Linked DNA regions of Homo sapiens. The protein of the gene in region 1 interacts with the protein of each later gene in a pairwise test. Each region holds a gene or a part of one and is shown on either strand. Other genes may lie near its edges.

Region 1 (3,500 bases):
ATTGTTCATTAGGTTCGAAGCCTGAAGAACAGAACAAATTTGTCAGGAAGACAAAGCTCCCAGCGCATCATTCTCTTTCATCAGACACTTTCCATCTTAACCAGCCTTGGTTCTGGACTCCAGCACGCCAACCAACAGTAAGAGCCGGGCATTCGGTCTTTCATACCCTTTTCCCTACATTTTCGCCCCCCCACCCACGAGCTGTGACCTCCACATTGTGACTTAAATCCTGTTTTGGGTTCCTGCTTCAGGAGCGATCTCGCAGCGCCACAGCGCTCTCTCACTGGCTGCTGCGGTTTTGCTGTGTGGAGGCGTTTTGGTTCTTTATTTTAGCTGCTGTCTGCTTTAGCATATTTCATTTAGCATATTTGGTTCCAGTTTTGCTCTATCAATAAATAGCACTGTGGCTGGGCGCGGTGGTTCACGCCTGGAATCCCAGCACTTTAGGAGGCCGAGGCAGGCAGATCGCTTGAGGTCAGGAGTTCGAGACCAGCCTAACCAACATGGTGAAACCCCGTCTCTACTAAAAATATGAAATTAGCCAGGTGTGGTGGTGCATGCCTGTAGTCCCAGCTACTTGGGAAACTGAGGCACAAGAATCGCCTGAACCTGGGAGGGGGAGGTTGCAGTGAGCCGAGATCACACCGCTGCACTCCAGCCTGGGTGACAGAGTGAGACTCTGTCTCAAAAAAGAAGTAAAAATAAATAAATAAATAAATAGCACTATACTGGGCACTTTCTCATGTTAACTTTCCACTTGGGATTATTCCTTTGGACCTGTTGAAAGGAGGTGGCTCAGAGGTGTGGCAAACTCTCTGTGTAAAGGGCCAGTGTGTAAATACTCTCAGCCTTTTCAGACACGGGTGCCTGACGCAACTACTCAGCTCTGCCGCCGTATCATGAAAGCCACCAGTGACACTAGGTGTATGAATGGGCATGGCTGTGTGCCAATAAAACTTTATTGGTCAGGTGTAGTGGCTCACACCTGTAATCCCAGCACTTTGGGGGGCCGAGGCGGGTGGATCACAAGGTCAGGAGTTCGAGACCAGCCTGGCAAACATGGTGAAACCCCATTTCTATTAAAAAATACCAAAATTAGCCAGGCATGGTGGTGGGCACCTGTAATCCCAGCTACTCGGGAGGCTGACGCAGGAGAATCGCTTGAACCTGGGAGGCGGAGGTTGCAGTGAGCTGAGATCACACCACTGCACTCCAACCTGGGCGACAGAGCGAGACTCCATCTCAAAAAAAAAAAAAAAAAAAAAAACCAAAAAAAACTTTATTAACAAAACCCAGCGGCGGGCCTTATTCTGCCAACCCCAGATGTCTGAAGGGAAAAGGCGTCTGTGACATGGCCAAGCTGAGAGGCCCCTTGAAAGACTGGGGCCCAGTCACCCTCCATCCCATGGTGAGGGAGAACATATTCCCCTGGCAGCTTGGCCAGCGGACGAGGGCTACAGTAAGAGGTGTGGCCTCTGCTGAATGGCACGACCCGGGCAGGGCTCCTGGCCCAGCTGGCTCATTTTTCTGACTGACAGTGAGACTGAGGGCTTTTCTCCCCGACAGCCTTAGGCGAGTCCCTGTACCCTGAGGCTGTGGGAGCCTGAAGAGTGGTCCCAGGGCACACAGACCTCCCAGGAAATGAACATGTGTGTGTGGGGGATGGCTCTCCGAGGATCCCAGTCAAGGAACTCCCTGCCAAAGGCCGTCCCTTTGGAAGCATGAGTGCCCGGGCATCGGGAGGTCCACCTGCGCCCGGCGCACCCGGCGCTCTGCTTCCCTTGCCTGAACCTTAGGAGGCAGACGCTGCTGTGTTGTGATCAGTGTCTCTGCACTGCGAGGAGGAGCCCACGCCAGGGTGGGGTGGGGGTGTGACCTCCCTGGGCTCAGCCAGGAGAGCCAGCTTTTGGTGCTCACTACTGATGGGTCTTGCTTGGGACATCAACATTGGGGACACTTTTGATTGTCGAAGCAGAGGGTGGGGGTGCTCCTGACATGGGGCGGGTGAGGCCAGGGGTGCTGCCAGCGCCCTGCGGTGCCCAGGACGACCCCACAGACAAGACCCATCTGGTTCCAGAAGCCAGCAGTGCCAAGGCAAGGAAGCCCTGGCCAGTAGCGGACACAGCAGATGCGGGCCTGGGGGGTGGCGCAGACACCATGGACAGGGAGGAGGGGCGGGCCGTTACCATGCTCATGAAGCCAGGGTTGTTCAGCAGGCCGGCGATGTCGAAGCTGCCCACGCCTCCCGTCTGAGGATGAGAACAGCCCTGGTTAGTGGGGCCTGGACCAGAGGCCACGGTGAATAACCCCCTGGAACTCAGAAACAACGGCCCCCCACGGGGCTCAGACATTCTATCAACCCTGCGGCCAGAGGGTGCTTTGAGGCAGGCAGCACGAAGCACATCGCAACCGCCCGGGGACGGCACAGTCTGTCATCCCGTGTTTATTCCCCGCACAGCGCGACCGCCCGGGGACGGCACAGTCTATCATCCCGTGTTTATTCCCCGCACAGCGCGACCGCCCGGGGACGGCACAGTCTATCATCCCGTGTTTATTCCCCGCACAGCGCGACCGCCCGGGGACGGCACAGTCTATCATCCCGTGTTTATTCCCCGTACAGCGCGACCGCCCGGGGACGGCACAGTCTATCATCCCGTGTTGATTTCCTGTATTCTGCCGCTTTGACACCTTGGGGCCTTGCTGGCCTGGCAGAGCCGCCCCCTCCTGGAGTAGCCAATTCCCAGAGAAAGCAAATGACTCACCCAGAAACGCACCTTTGAAATACAAACAAACTAACCCAGAACCCACACCCTCAGCACCTCCCCCATCACCCCAGGGCCACAGTCCACCTGCCCCACTCACCCCCAGGCCAGGGACCAGGCAACCAGGGGCAGCCCCCAGGCCTGGGTCTAATGAAATGGCTCCAACCAGCCAACCCGAAGCCTCCTCACCCGGCCTCGCCACAAAACCCACATCGAGGGTCCTTTCTGTGCCCCTCCCTCAGCCTCCGCGGGCAGCCCTGCGGCCGGCCTCCTGCTTCCAGGGGTCTGGGGGCATGAACCTTCTCACGACACTCACTTCCACGCCTGTGCATCTCACCACCAACTGAAACAAACCCCGGACCCTCACGACACCCAGGTTAAGCCTAGAGCCACTGGTGCGCCCGAGGACCTGTCCCCCACCCACACAGTCAGCTCGGCGTTCTGGAGCCACTCGCCCCCGCTGCACTCACGGGGCTGGGGGCCTCCCGCAGCTTCAGCTCCGCTATCTTGAGGTTGGACTTGTATGTCTCGTTGTCGGGGTCCAGCTCCAGAGCCTTCTTGTAGTAAGCCACGGCCTCCACGTGCTTGTTGAGGCTGGAGAGCGCCAGGCTGGAGGAGAGCACCGGGGATGGACTGTTCCCATCTGCCCAGCTCCAGGAGGCCCCGCCAAAGCCCTCGTCCCCGGCGGTCCTGGCAACCCCCAAACCACCTCGGATGGTGCCACCCCCTGCCCGCTGT
Region 2 (4,282 bases), on another chromosome or scaffold:
TTTCCTCTGAGCCTCAAATTCAGACTCATTTCCTCCATCAAGGCAGAGGAATCATGGGAGGTGCTCATCTGGCCTTACCTTCCAACACAGTGAGGGCCAGGGCCGGCGGGGGCACAGGACCGGAGGTCCCTCAGGGTCGTCGCTGAGAGCAGTGCCTGCACAGTCCTCATAGAAGAGGTGCAGGTAGGAGCGGACCCCATACCACTTGCCATCCTCCACGCTGGGGCCGCGGCTGCAGCTGCAGGAACGATTGCAGCTCGGCATCATGGACCCCTGGGGAGCAGGTAAGGTGCAGCTGACGGAGGGAGGGATTAGTGGGAGCTGCTCATGGTGACCTTCATAAGCCCCCTAAATCTTTGTGCCCCACCCGCTTCTCCTCCCACTCGAGACACCCTACACGCATAGCACAGTCTGGCCTTTTGGAATCCCAGCCTGTCCTTCCCAAAGCACACTGCGAATGAGCCAATGCACTGAAGGCCTTAGCCCAGTGCCTGGCAATTGGAGGTGTCAATAAATGTGCATGTTTACTCTGGAGGCCACCCAGTACCTGGGACTGTGGGCTCTGGAGCCTGACCACTTGGACTGGAGTCGTGGACACACTGCTTCCTGGAGGCGTGACCTTAGACAAGTGCTTCCACCTTTCTGGGTCTCAGTTTCCTCATCTGTAAAACAGACCTAATAATCATACTTCTTTCATACAGTTACTGTGTCTAATGCTGAGAAATGGTAGCTGTTGTGATTAGTACTGTAATTTTTTTGCTATTACTTCCATCTTGAACTTTTTAGTCTCCATATCTGGAATGAGAGAGCCTCACCCTCCGCTCCCCTTCAGACCCCCTCCTGGGGGTAATTGTCATGGCTGACACTTGGGCTGGAGTTCCCAAGCTGCAAGGCTATAAAAAGGTCCTCCCCAGGACTGCCCCTGAAAGCCTCCAGATTCCAATGAATTTTGACTCCATTGGAAGTGAAAGTCAGGGTCCCTCAGGATTAAAGACTCTTAGGCTTAAGGGCTGTTAGATTTCCAGAGAAACCTATCAAATAACCTTTTTTTTTTTTTCCACAAAAGTGGACACGGATCTTGGGAATGGAAGGTACTTGTATATCCATATACAGGTTTGGCCCGAACCAAAGCCAGGAGGTGTTGGGGGAGGACTGGGCTTCTACCCCAGTCTCCATGATGGCCCTCAGCCTTAATTAGCAGCCTCCTGCAAAATGAAACAATGTGCTTGTTCCAAAGGGTAAGATAAAGGTCCTGACAGCTGCCCCTCACTTCCAATCAGATGTGGTCCTCAAATCCCTGCATAGAGAAACTCACCGAAACAGCACAGAGAAACACACAGACATACTCACAAAGCATACAGAGACATACCCAGATAGGTACGACACACACACACACACACACACACACACACACACACACACACACGGTTGGAGGTTCTGCTTGGAGTCACACGGCACACAAGATTGCTGTCAAGAAAGCCTGTCCATAAATAGTGGCTGTACACCCTCCTCACTTACAATTCAGGGAAAAGAAGAGCGGGGAAGGAAAGGAGGAAAAACAACAACAACAAAAGCCACGACAGAGAACGGGAAAAGGCAGAGACTGAAAGCGAAGGACCGTCGGAGGAGGAGGGCGAGAGGTCTGGAGAGGAGGGCTCGCCGGAGGAGGCGGGCGGGGCGGGCTGTGCGGAGGGTGCGGCCAGCGCGGTACCCGCCCCGGCGAGGCGCTGGGGAGGCCCGGGTGGGGAGAAGAAATGGGGCCTGGGGGACGGTAGGAGCCTCCGTGCGGAGACCACTGTTCAAGGCCACAGGTGAGGAGGTGTGGAGGGGGCTTCGGGGCTGTTGACCTGGGTCAGCTCCTCCCCTCCAATTCACCGCTTCCGCGACTCCAAATAGATGGAATCACTCAGTCCTGCTGCTACTGGAGAGGGAAGGTGACCTTGACGCTGCCTCCCGCTCGGCCTGGCCCCTCCGCCTGGCGTTTCAGGGCTGCACGGAGTAGGTCTGGCGGGCGGGGGGCGGGGCGCAGGCACCCGGGACGAGGGTTGCCATGGGAACCGCTAGGGAGGCGTCCCCAGCCCGGGAGCCGGGAGGAGCTCGGTGGGAGGGGAGCGGGAGGCGGAGGGGGCTGCGCTGTCCGACGTGGGGAGACTGCGGCGGAGGGAGGAGGCGAGGGGCGGCAGGCACGGGCGGAAGTGACGGAAGCCAGGGCCCGAAGATGGACGGAATCTGTCGCCTCTGCACAGCCTCATTCAGTTGTGTCCTTCCCAGACCCTCAGACTCGCCCACTACAGCGTCCAGCGCTGCCCGGGCGGGGGAGAAGGGGCGCCCTCCCGGGGGGGATGGGTAGGGGGTGTCGGCCGGGGAAATCAGGCCATTTCCCGCCTCCCTTCCCCACCGGCACCCGCGCCACTCTTCCTGACAGGACCACCGATGCCCTGCTCCACACCAACTGCGTCCTTTTCCCTAGAGAGAAACTGAGGCAGAGAGGGGTAGGAATGGGTTTTTGAAGTGTTGGCGGGGGTGGGGGTGTCCTTTGAAGCCTCTACCCAGCCTATCAACCCTGAGGCGTCGAGGGGCGATGGGGCTGTTTCTGTCTCCCGCCCCTGCTGCTTCCCTGGGACCCCCACCTCCCAAAGCCGAGGCTCAGGCGCAAAGGTCCCGGCCCTGGCGGGACACGGCCCGGGCTGAGGATGCGGGCAGAGCGCGGGGGTTCTCCAGGGGCTGGGGCTGGGGCCTGGCCGCGCGTGGGGCAGGGCTAAGCTCACCTCTCTGCCTGCTGTCTCCGCCGAGCAAAGGCGGGTCCGGTTCGCGCCTGCGCCGCAGTTCGGGGCGGGGGAGGGGGCGCCGGCCCGCCTCAGGGCCTGGCTCTGCAGACGGCGGCCGCCTGCAGCTCCCCCGGCTCCTGTCCCCTTCCAGAGTTCCCTGCTCGCTCGGACACCCCAGCGCCCTCACAGAGACCCCTCGGACTCCCTGGGCCCCAGCCCCTCACGCAGCCCCTCAGACTCCTCACCGAAGCTGCCGTCACTCCCGCAGTTCCCCACCCCTCCCGTGGAAGACCCATCCCTTAACCGAGCCTTCCTCTCCTCGCTGCACCGTCAGTCCCTTTTCCAGGTCTCCATCCCCCTCATGGAGCCCCACCCCAGCGTAGAAACCGCTTCTCCTCGCCGGGCCCCCGCCCTCTTCACAGGCTCCCATCTGTCTCCGGGCTCCTACCGGGAAGTCCCCTCCCACTTGCCTTGAGAGCCGCTAATCCCTCTGGAGTCCTCACATCTCACTCAGTCCCCATCCTCTTTTCATCCTCTTTTCCTCTTTGAGTCCCTACCCATCCCTGGTACGGGATCAGCCCTTGTACCTTGAGAAGGGAGTTTGGGTGGAGGACTCGGGGTTGGGAGAGAAGTGACCTCCACTTTGGAAGGAGCTAATGACAGCCTCCCTTGTTGTTTCCTCCCCTAGCCCCAGTTCTGCCCTGGGCAATGCGTGCCCACTGCCCATCTCCCTGGAGAGCCAGCCTGTGCCAGGCAGCTGCATCTGCCTCCCACCCTGTCATGAGCTGTCAGCCTTGATTTTGTCCCACATTTGCTGTGTGATCTTGGGAAAGTCATTGTGCCCCTCCAACCGTCATCAAGCACCCTTGCACAGACATGCCTTTGTGTCTTGAGCATCTATTCTGTTTCTCCTTGTGCTAGGGGCTGGGGACACACAGAAGAATGAGCTCGGCAAGATAGGGCCACATCTTCCTTTTTAGTTTTTCTTTTTCTTTTTTTTTAATTTTTATTTTTTTGAGACAGCGTCTCACTCTGTTGTCCAGGCTGGAGTGCGGTGGCATGATCACGGCTCACTGCAGCCTCGATCTCCCAAGGCTCAGGTGATCCTCCCACCTCAGTCGCCTGAGGAGCTGGGACTACAGGCACGCACTACCATGCCTAGCTAATTTTTTGTATTTTTAATAGAGACAGGGTTTTGCCATGATGCCCAGGCTGGTCTTGAACTCCTGAGCTCAAGTGATCCACCTGCCTCGGCCTCCCAAAGTGCTGGGATTGTAAGCGTGAGCCACCGCGTCTGGCCAAGGCCACATATTTCTTGTTCGTGTTGTATCTGTGAGCCTCCCATAGTGCTTGGCACTGAGTAGGCAGCCCAGTAAATATTTACTGAAGACAGTCTAATAATAGTAGCAAACTTATTATGCTCACTATGTGCAAAGTGTTTAAGCGTTTTGTATGTTCTATTTACTTACTCATTTAAGTGTGTGTGTGTGTGTGTATGTGTGTGTGTGTGATGG
Region 3 (3,500 bases), on another chromosome or scaffold:
TTTTTTTTCTTTTTTGAGACGAACTCTGACTCTGTCACCCAGGCTGGAGTGCAGTGGCGTGATCTCAGCTCACTGCAACCTCTGCCTCCCAGGTTCAAGCAATTCTCCTGCCTCAGCCTCCTGAGCAGCTGGGATTATAGGTGTCTACTACCACACCTGGCTAATTTTTGTATTTTCAGTAGAGATAGGGTTTCATCATGTTGGCCATGCTGGTCTAGAACTCCTGACCTCAAGTGATCTGCCAGCTGCAGCCTCTCAAAGTGCTGGGATTACAGGCGTGAACCACCATGCCCAGCCTGAACACATGTAATTAACACATATAGTAACACATGCTATTTATTTATTTATTTGAGACAGAGTCTAGCTCTGTCACCCAAGCTGGAGTGCAGTGGCACGATCCTGCTCACTGCAACCTCCACCTCCTGGGTTCAAGCGATTCTCCTGCCTCAGCCTCCGGAGTATCTGGGATTACAGGCACCTGCCACCCTGCCCTGCTAATTTTTGTATTCTTAGTAGAGACAGGGTTTCACCATGTTGGCCAGGCTGGTCTCCAACTCCTTACCTCAAGTGATCTGCCCGCCTCAGCCTCCCAAAGTGCTGGGATTACAGGCATGAGCCACCCCACCAGGACAACATATGCTATTTCTATCAGGTTTATTTTTGAAATGTATCTGAAATTTTGGAAGACCATTTAATTTTCCAGAAAGTTTTATCAAGTAAAAAAATGCATTATTACTTAATAAACTATCACTTCATTTCAATTTCCCTTTAGGATTATTAGGTCTTTTCTCTCCTCACAAACTGGAAAGCAAGCTCCCACCTGTAATCCGCTGGGGTGCTCAGAAGTCTGACAGATTCATCATATTACTCCCAACTGTATTCCAACACTCAACTGGGTATTAATTAAATAACCTAGAAATGGCATTCTAAATATGGCACACCTCTTAAATTGGGTTCAAAGTGGCATTTAATGTATTTTCATCATCTTGAGTTGTCTCTAAACAGCTACACTTCAATTGGCCTTTCTTGAAGAGCTTCCTGTGTTATATATTTTACCTTAATATTTAAAACAGCTCGGCTATGAGAGAAATGCTGGTATGTTCTATAGAGCTCAATGAATAAAGCATACATTCTCCCTAGAATGAAAGGATCTTTGCAAATATAAACAGTATTTTTTCAAACAAGGCACTCAATATTTTTATCCTTCCAATTATCTCAGCAGCAGAGAAAAACCAGTGTCACAAGTTCCACTGACTGCAGTCCAAAGCTCACTGAGCGTTTCACAGCAAAAGAGCTTTGTCTTTTAACTCTTACAGTTTTACTTTTTACTCAACAAAACTTTTGAAGGAATTTTCTTTATGAGTAGATGTAACTGCCTTAGCTGATAGAGCAGATGCTGGGATTCCCCAAGATAAAAAGATCCTATGAATCCCCATCAACCCAAATTCTTTTTTTTTTTTTTTTTTGAGACAGAGTCTCACTCTGTCGCCAGGCTGGAGTGCAGTGGTACAATCTCGGCTCACTGCAACCTACGACCCCCTGGTCCAAGCAATTCTCCTGCGTCAGCCTCCTGAGTAGCTGGGACTACAGGCGCATGCCACCACGCCCAGCTAATTTTTGTATTTTTAGCAGAGACGGGGTTTCACCATGTTGGCCAGGGTGGTCTCGATCTCCTGACCTTGTGATCTGCCCACCTCGGCCTCCCAAAGTGCTAGGATTACAGGTGTGAGCCACCGCGCTCAGCCCAACCCCAAATCTTTTCACCTTCTTCCAGACCAACACACAAGACCCGGCACAGAATCACTATAAACTGTGGGCCAAGGAGAGACACAATGAAGCTTGCTGAGCTACCTGCAGGGGACCAATGCACCCATCCTTGAAATCCCTCCAGGAGGGCTAAATTATGGTTTTAAAACAATACACTTGTCTAGAAGAGACATTTATGGGGCCAGGCGCAGTGGCTCCCCGCTGTAATCTCAGCACTTTGGGAGGCCAAGGTGGGTGGATCACTTGAGGTCAGGAGTTCGAGACCAGCCTGGCCAACATAGTGAAACCCCATCTCTACTAAAAATACAAAAATTAGTTGGGCACGGTGGTGCATGCCTGTAATTCCAGCTACTCGGGAGGCTGAGGCAGAAGAACTGTTTGAACCCAGAAGGTGGAGGCTGCAGTGAGCCAAGATTATGCCACTGCACTCCAGCCTGGGTGACACAGCGAGACTCTTGTCTCAAAAAAAAAGACATTTATGGGTATCGATCAGCATCCTGTCTTTGTCGTGGGGAGCTGTTCTATGCACTGAAGGATGCTGAGCAGCATCCCCGGCTTCTACCCAGTCAGCAGTGCATGTACACGCACCCAGTGGTGACAACCAGCAATATCTCAACACTCCCAAATGTCTTCTGGATGGGGCAAAATGAGCCTGGGTTAAGAACCACTAGTAGAGATGCATGCGTGTAGTTTTAGCACCTTTAAATATACCAGTACTTCAAATTAAATATTTAAGGTCATATAAAATATAAATTGTGACTTATGAAATCACAGAGAAAAACAATTTAGTCAGACTTCAACTTACGGATGTTAAAAATCAACATTTATATCAATGTACCCTGCCTGATGAAAACAACTCCTAAATGGTAATACTTCATAAATGTGTATTTCTCACAATAAGAAAAGGAATAAAATGGTTCCACCAGATAATACTGTATATTTTCCAGGAGGCTTCTTTCTCCCAATATCCAAGATTCATATCTTACAAACATCTGTATCTTAAATTTCAGATTTAAGTCTTAAAAAAAGTACTATAGGTGAGGTATGAAATATTTAATGTTTATATCAAAAAGGGCAAATACCATAAACCCACACTGAACTACCCATTTGCACTTTGCCTCATAGTTGAAATAACCTATACATTACCGGAAAGGATCTGACACAAAATTAAGCTGCAGCCACGAGTCCAGGTGGAGCACCTGTCAGGTGGAGGGGAGCACCAATGCCCCTCTGCAACCAGTGTCGCCCAGCACTCCCAGGAGGGCACAGCAGGGCCGCCTCGGGGTCACAACTGCAGCACCAGAGCTCCCAGGGATGCTGTGTTCCAAGTGCTTGTCCTCTCCGCATCTGCTCCCCAGAGCGGAAAAGCTTCCCTTCTGCGTCACACTCTGCTGAAAGTCCTCCCAGTACTTTTGGTACTGGGATAGCACCTTTCTGATCTTTTTGGTTGAGAAAGAGGAGATATGCTAGTCCAGGCAAGGATACGCTTAAAACCTACAGGCTTTAAAGCTAATACTGATTTTTGTTGTTATTCAAATAATGACAAGAACACATACAATTTTTCCTGCACTTCAAGGTAAGCTTTGTTAAAATGATAAGATATCAGGGGGCTCAAACATCGAATACAATATACGAATAAGGGCCACTTTCTAAGGCGGATTTTTCTACAGCAGGTTAAGCATTAAAGTCCCATTTACCACAAGCCAAAAATATCAATTCTGAGTGTGTAAAAC
Region 4 (3,500 bases), on another chromosome or scaffold:
AGAGAGGGAGGAAGCTAGAAATCGTTTCCCTACTTGGAACAGGAATACCCAGCATCTTTCCTTCTGAGCCACTCTCAAGGAGTGTAAGTAAACAGGTTCATGGTCTCTAAAGGAATCTGCTGCCCACAGTAGGCTTAACCTGAGCAGATTTTGGGACCATGGAATCTAAGCTCAGCTGTACAGGTGCCTGAAGGGAAGGGAACCCCTCTTCCTTCACATTCCACCCCTCTCTGACATTAAACTGTGAGAACTTTGAGCTCTCCTTGCAGGGAACACTGGGCAGAGGGGGTGCTATGTCCCCTAGGGGACAGCATAGTCAGTTCTTCTGTCTTCATTTCAGTTTATGTACCAAAACTGTTAGGTTTTGGTGTTAGCTCAAATGCACTGATGCCACCACTAATCCAAGGGCACCTCCCAACCACAGCGACAGCTTTAATAGTCACCAGCATTTAGTGGCTGACAGGGTAAAGATCTGCACCCCCATTGCATTTTAAATCTTCACTTGAACTCTGCCTGAGAAGCAAGATGTATTATCTCCATGTTATACTTCAGGAAAAAAAAAACTGAAGCTCAAAGATTAAAGGACTGTGGGTGATAGAGTGGCTCATCCAGAGCTCCACCTAAGTGTTTAGTCCCAGGCAGGGGCTTACTTATTTCACTTCCCTCCCAGCTTGGATGCCTCCATTCCGTAGTAAGCTGGGAACTTAGTAGAGCGTCTGGTCCTGGGTAGAGATAGCTGGCACACCTCTCCAGGACAGTCAGTCAGATTTGACTCAACTTCAGGTAACTCCCTTGGTGCTTTTATTAGAATAATAATAATAGTTAACATTTATCAGATGTTTACTGCGTGCCAGGCCGCTGTGCTGAGTGTTTTACATGTGTTTCATCTTTGCAAGAGCTCTGTGAAGGAAGTCCCATGTGGTACTATTACCTCCATTTTTTCAAATGAAGAAATGGATGCTTAGAGTAACTTGCTCAAGATTGTGGAATTGTTAAGTGGCAGAACTAGGTTTGGAACCCTAGGCATCCAGTACTACCACTACTAGTAGTTGGTCTTAGCCGTTTCTCGGCAAAGTGTAAGAAACCAGTTGTCACAGCATCAGTCCTTGGGGCTGCTACTGCTCGTTAGGAAGGATGTTGCAGATACTAACAGCAGCTACCACATATTAAGCATATAACCCTGCCAAGTATCACGCACATATTCCCTCATCCGGTCCTCCCAACAGCCCCCATGTGGCAGGGACTGTGTTCCTTCCCTACCACATGCTCCCCTTTCTCACCCAGCTCCAGCCAGACTGGTCTTTGTAATCCTGAAATTTCCTGAGCTTAGCCCTGCCTCAGAGCTTTTGCACTTGCAGTCCTTTCTGCCTGAGACACTCTTCCCAAATCTTCACGTAGCTTGCTCCAGGACATTCAGGTCCTTTAGCTGATGTCACCTTCACAGGGAGGCCTGCCTTGACCACCTGAAGTGGGCTTTCTTACCCACTTTGTCACATCGCGCTGTTTTGTTTTCCCTGTGGCATTCATCACCTGTGTTTATGTGTTTGTTATGTCTCTTCTCTCCCTTAGAAGAATATGAGCTTAATAGTCTTTTTTTTTTTTTTTTTTTTTTTTTTGAGACAAAGTCTCACTCTGTTGCCCAAGCTGGAGTGCGGTGGTGGGATCTCGGATCACTGCAACCTCCACCTCCTGGGTTCAAGCGATTCTTCTGCCTCAGCCTCTTGAGTAGCTGGGACTACAGGCACGCGCCACCATGCCCTGCTAATTTTTTTGTTATTTTTAGCAGAGACAGCGGTTTCACTATGTTGGCCAGGCTGGTCTTGAACTCCTGACCTCGTGATCTGTCCGCCTCGGCCTCCCAAAGTGCTGGGATTACAGGCATGAGCCACCGCACCCGTCCGAGCTTAATACTCTTAATCACAAGTAGACCCCCAGCACCTAGAACAGCATCTGACACATAGTGGGCATATAATAAATATTCAGAAGAATCTCCATTTTTTCAGATGAAGAACAGTTCAGAGAGTTTAAATGATTTGCCTAGTGCTGCATGGCTAGGAAGTGGCAGAGGAGGAATTCAAACACAGGTCTGTATGGTTGCTCCTCACTTTGAACCATTACACGGCCAAGAAAATTCTTCTTTCCCTCAGTTCAGCTAGGTCCCATAGCAATTTTCTGCCCTGAGTTCCTTATGGTCTTGCTTTTTGTGTCTGGTTTCTGCTCACAGATTATGGTGACAAGCTGAACATGGAGCTGAGTGAGAAATACAAGCTGGACAAAGAGAGCTACCCAGTCTTCTACCTCTTCCGGGATGGGGACTTTGAGAACCCAGTCCCATACACTGGGGCAGTTAAGGTTGGAGCCATCCAGCGCTGGCTGAAGGGGCAAGGGGTCTACCTAGGTATGCCTGGTTGCCTGCCTGTATACGACGCCCTGGCCGGGGAGTTCATCAGGGCCTCTGGTGTGGAGGCCCGCCAGGCCCTCTTGAAGCAGGGGCAAGATAACCTCTCAAGTGTGAAGGAGACTCAGAAGAAGTGGGCCGAGCAATACCTGAAGATCATGGGGAAGATCTTAGACCAAGGGGAGGACTTCCCAGCATCAGAGATGACACGGATCGCCAGGCTGATTGAGAAGAACAAGATGAGTGACGGGAAGAAGGAGGAGCTCCAGAAGAGCTTAAACATCCTGACTGCCTTCCAGAAGAAGGGGGCCGAGAAAGAGGAGCTGTAAAAAGGCTGTCTGTGATTTTCCAGGGTTTGGTGGGGGTAGGGAGGGGAGAGTTAACCTGCTGGCTGTGAGTCCCTTGTGGAATATAAGGGGGTAGTGGGAAAAGTGGTACTAACCCACGATTCTGAGCCCTGAGTATGCCTGGACATTGATGCTAACATGACCATGCTTGGGATGTCTCTAGCTGGTCTGGGGATAGCTGGAGCACTTACTCAGGTGGCTGGTGAAATGACACCTCAGAAGGAATGAGTGCTATAGAGAGGAGAGAGGAGTGTACTGCCCAGGTCTTTGACAGATGTAATTCTCATTCAATTAAAGTTTCAGTGTTTTGGTTAAGTGGACCTGAAGCCATTCTTTTTTCTTTTCAAATTATACTTTCGTCTATGACCTGCTTTCCTCTTTGAATCTAAGCTGGTATAGACTCCACTTTCCCAGGGTAACAAACTATCCTCATAACACTGTGGAAACTGGCATACCTTTGTTATTTTCCAGTGATATTCAGACTGACATGGATTGACTGTCAATGGTAAAGTTTGTCTATTTTCCAGTCCTTAAAACTCAATAGCAGTATTGATGAATATATTGAACCAACATTGATGGACCATGGTGTAATTATTTTCCATGCTTTGTGAGGTACACATAGCAAATTCTTAGTTTTACTGATATATTCTGTGACTTGGATTTACACAGCTAAATGATATAGTCCGATTTCAAAATTAAAAAATATTTTCCATCTAAATCACTATCACTAAATAAATACTAACTTCTAGAAAGCA

Evidence for each region.
Region 2: the proteins of SGTA (region 1) and NRSN2 interact in binary tests that used the Homo sapiens proteins (3 or more experiments, as listed by UniProt).
Region 3: the proteins of SGTA (region 1) and NAXD interact in binary tests that used the Homo sapiens proteins (3 or more experiments, as listed by UniProt).
Region 4: the proteins of SGTA (region 1) and ERP29 interact in binary tests that used the Homo sapiens proteins (3 or more experiments, as listed by UniProt).

What each region holds. Positions count from the first base shown.
Region 1 is NC_000019.10:2,759,274-2,762,773, forward strand, and holds part of SGTA (small glutamine-rich tetratricopeptide repeat-containing protein alpha), read right to left. Parts: intron 3,372-3,500; coding exon 3,233-3,371; intron 2,250-3,232; coding exon 2,187-2,249; intron 22-2,186; coding exon 1-21. UniProt on the Homo sapiens protein: Co-chaperone that binds misfolded and hydrophobic patches-containing client proteins in the cytosol. Mediates their targeting to the endoplasmic reticulum but also regulates their sorting to the proteasome when targeting fails.
Region 2 is NC_000020.11:345,629-349,910, reverse strand, and holds the start of NRSN2 (neurensin-2), read right to left. Parts: upstream 2,801-4,282; 5' UTR 2,769-2,800; intron 2,493-2,768; coding exon of another isoform or gene 1,897-2,492; exon of another isoform or gene 1,848-1,896; intron 1,812-1,847; coding exon of another isoform or gene 1,526-1,811; intron 1,239-1,525; coding exon of another isoform or gene 1,221-1,238; intron 676-1,220; exon of another isoform or gene 663-675; 5' UTR 548-662; intron 296-547; exon of another isoform or gene 274-295; 5' UTR 268-273; coding exon 79-267; intron 1-78. Other genes in the region: serine/arginine repetitive matrix protein 2-like, read left to right, coding at 1,221-1,238, 1,526-1,811, 1,897-2,492, 2,920-3,243. UniProt on the Homo sapiens protein: May play a role in maintenance and/or transport of vesicles.
Region 3 is NC_000013.11:110,618,545-110,622,044, reverse strand, and holds part of NAXD (ATP-dependent (S)-NAD(P)H-hydrate dehydratase), read right to left. Parts: intron 1-3,500. UniProt on the Homo sapiens protein: Catalyzes the dehydration of the S-form of NAD(P)HX at the expense of ATP, which is converted to ADP.
Region 4 is NC_000012.12:112,019,926-112,023,425, forward strand, and holds part of ERP29 (endoplasmic reticulum resident protein 29 isoform 1 precursor), read left to right. Parts: intron 1-650; exon of another isoform or gene 651-2,224; coding exon 2,225-2,727; 3' UTR 2,728-3,500. UniProt on the Homo sapiens protein: Does not seem to be a disulfide isomerase. Plays an important role in the processing of secretory proteins within the endoplasmic reticulum (ER), possibly by participating in the folding of proteins in the ER.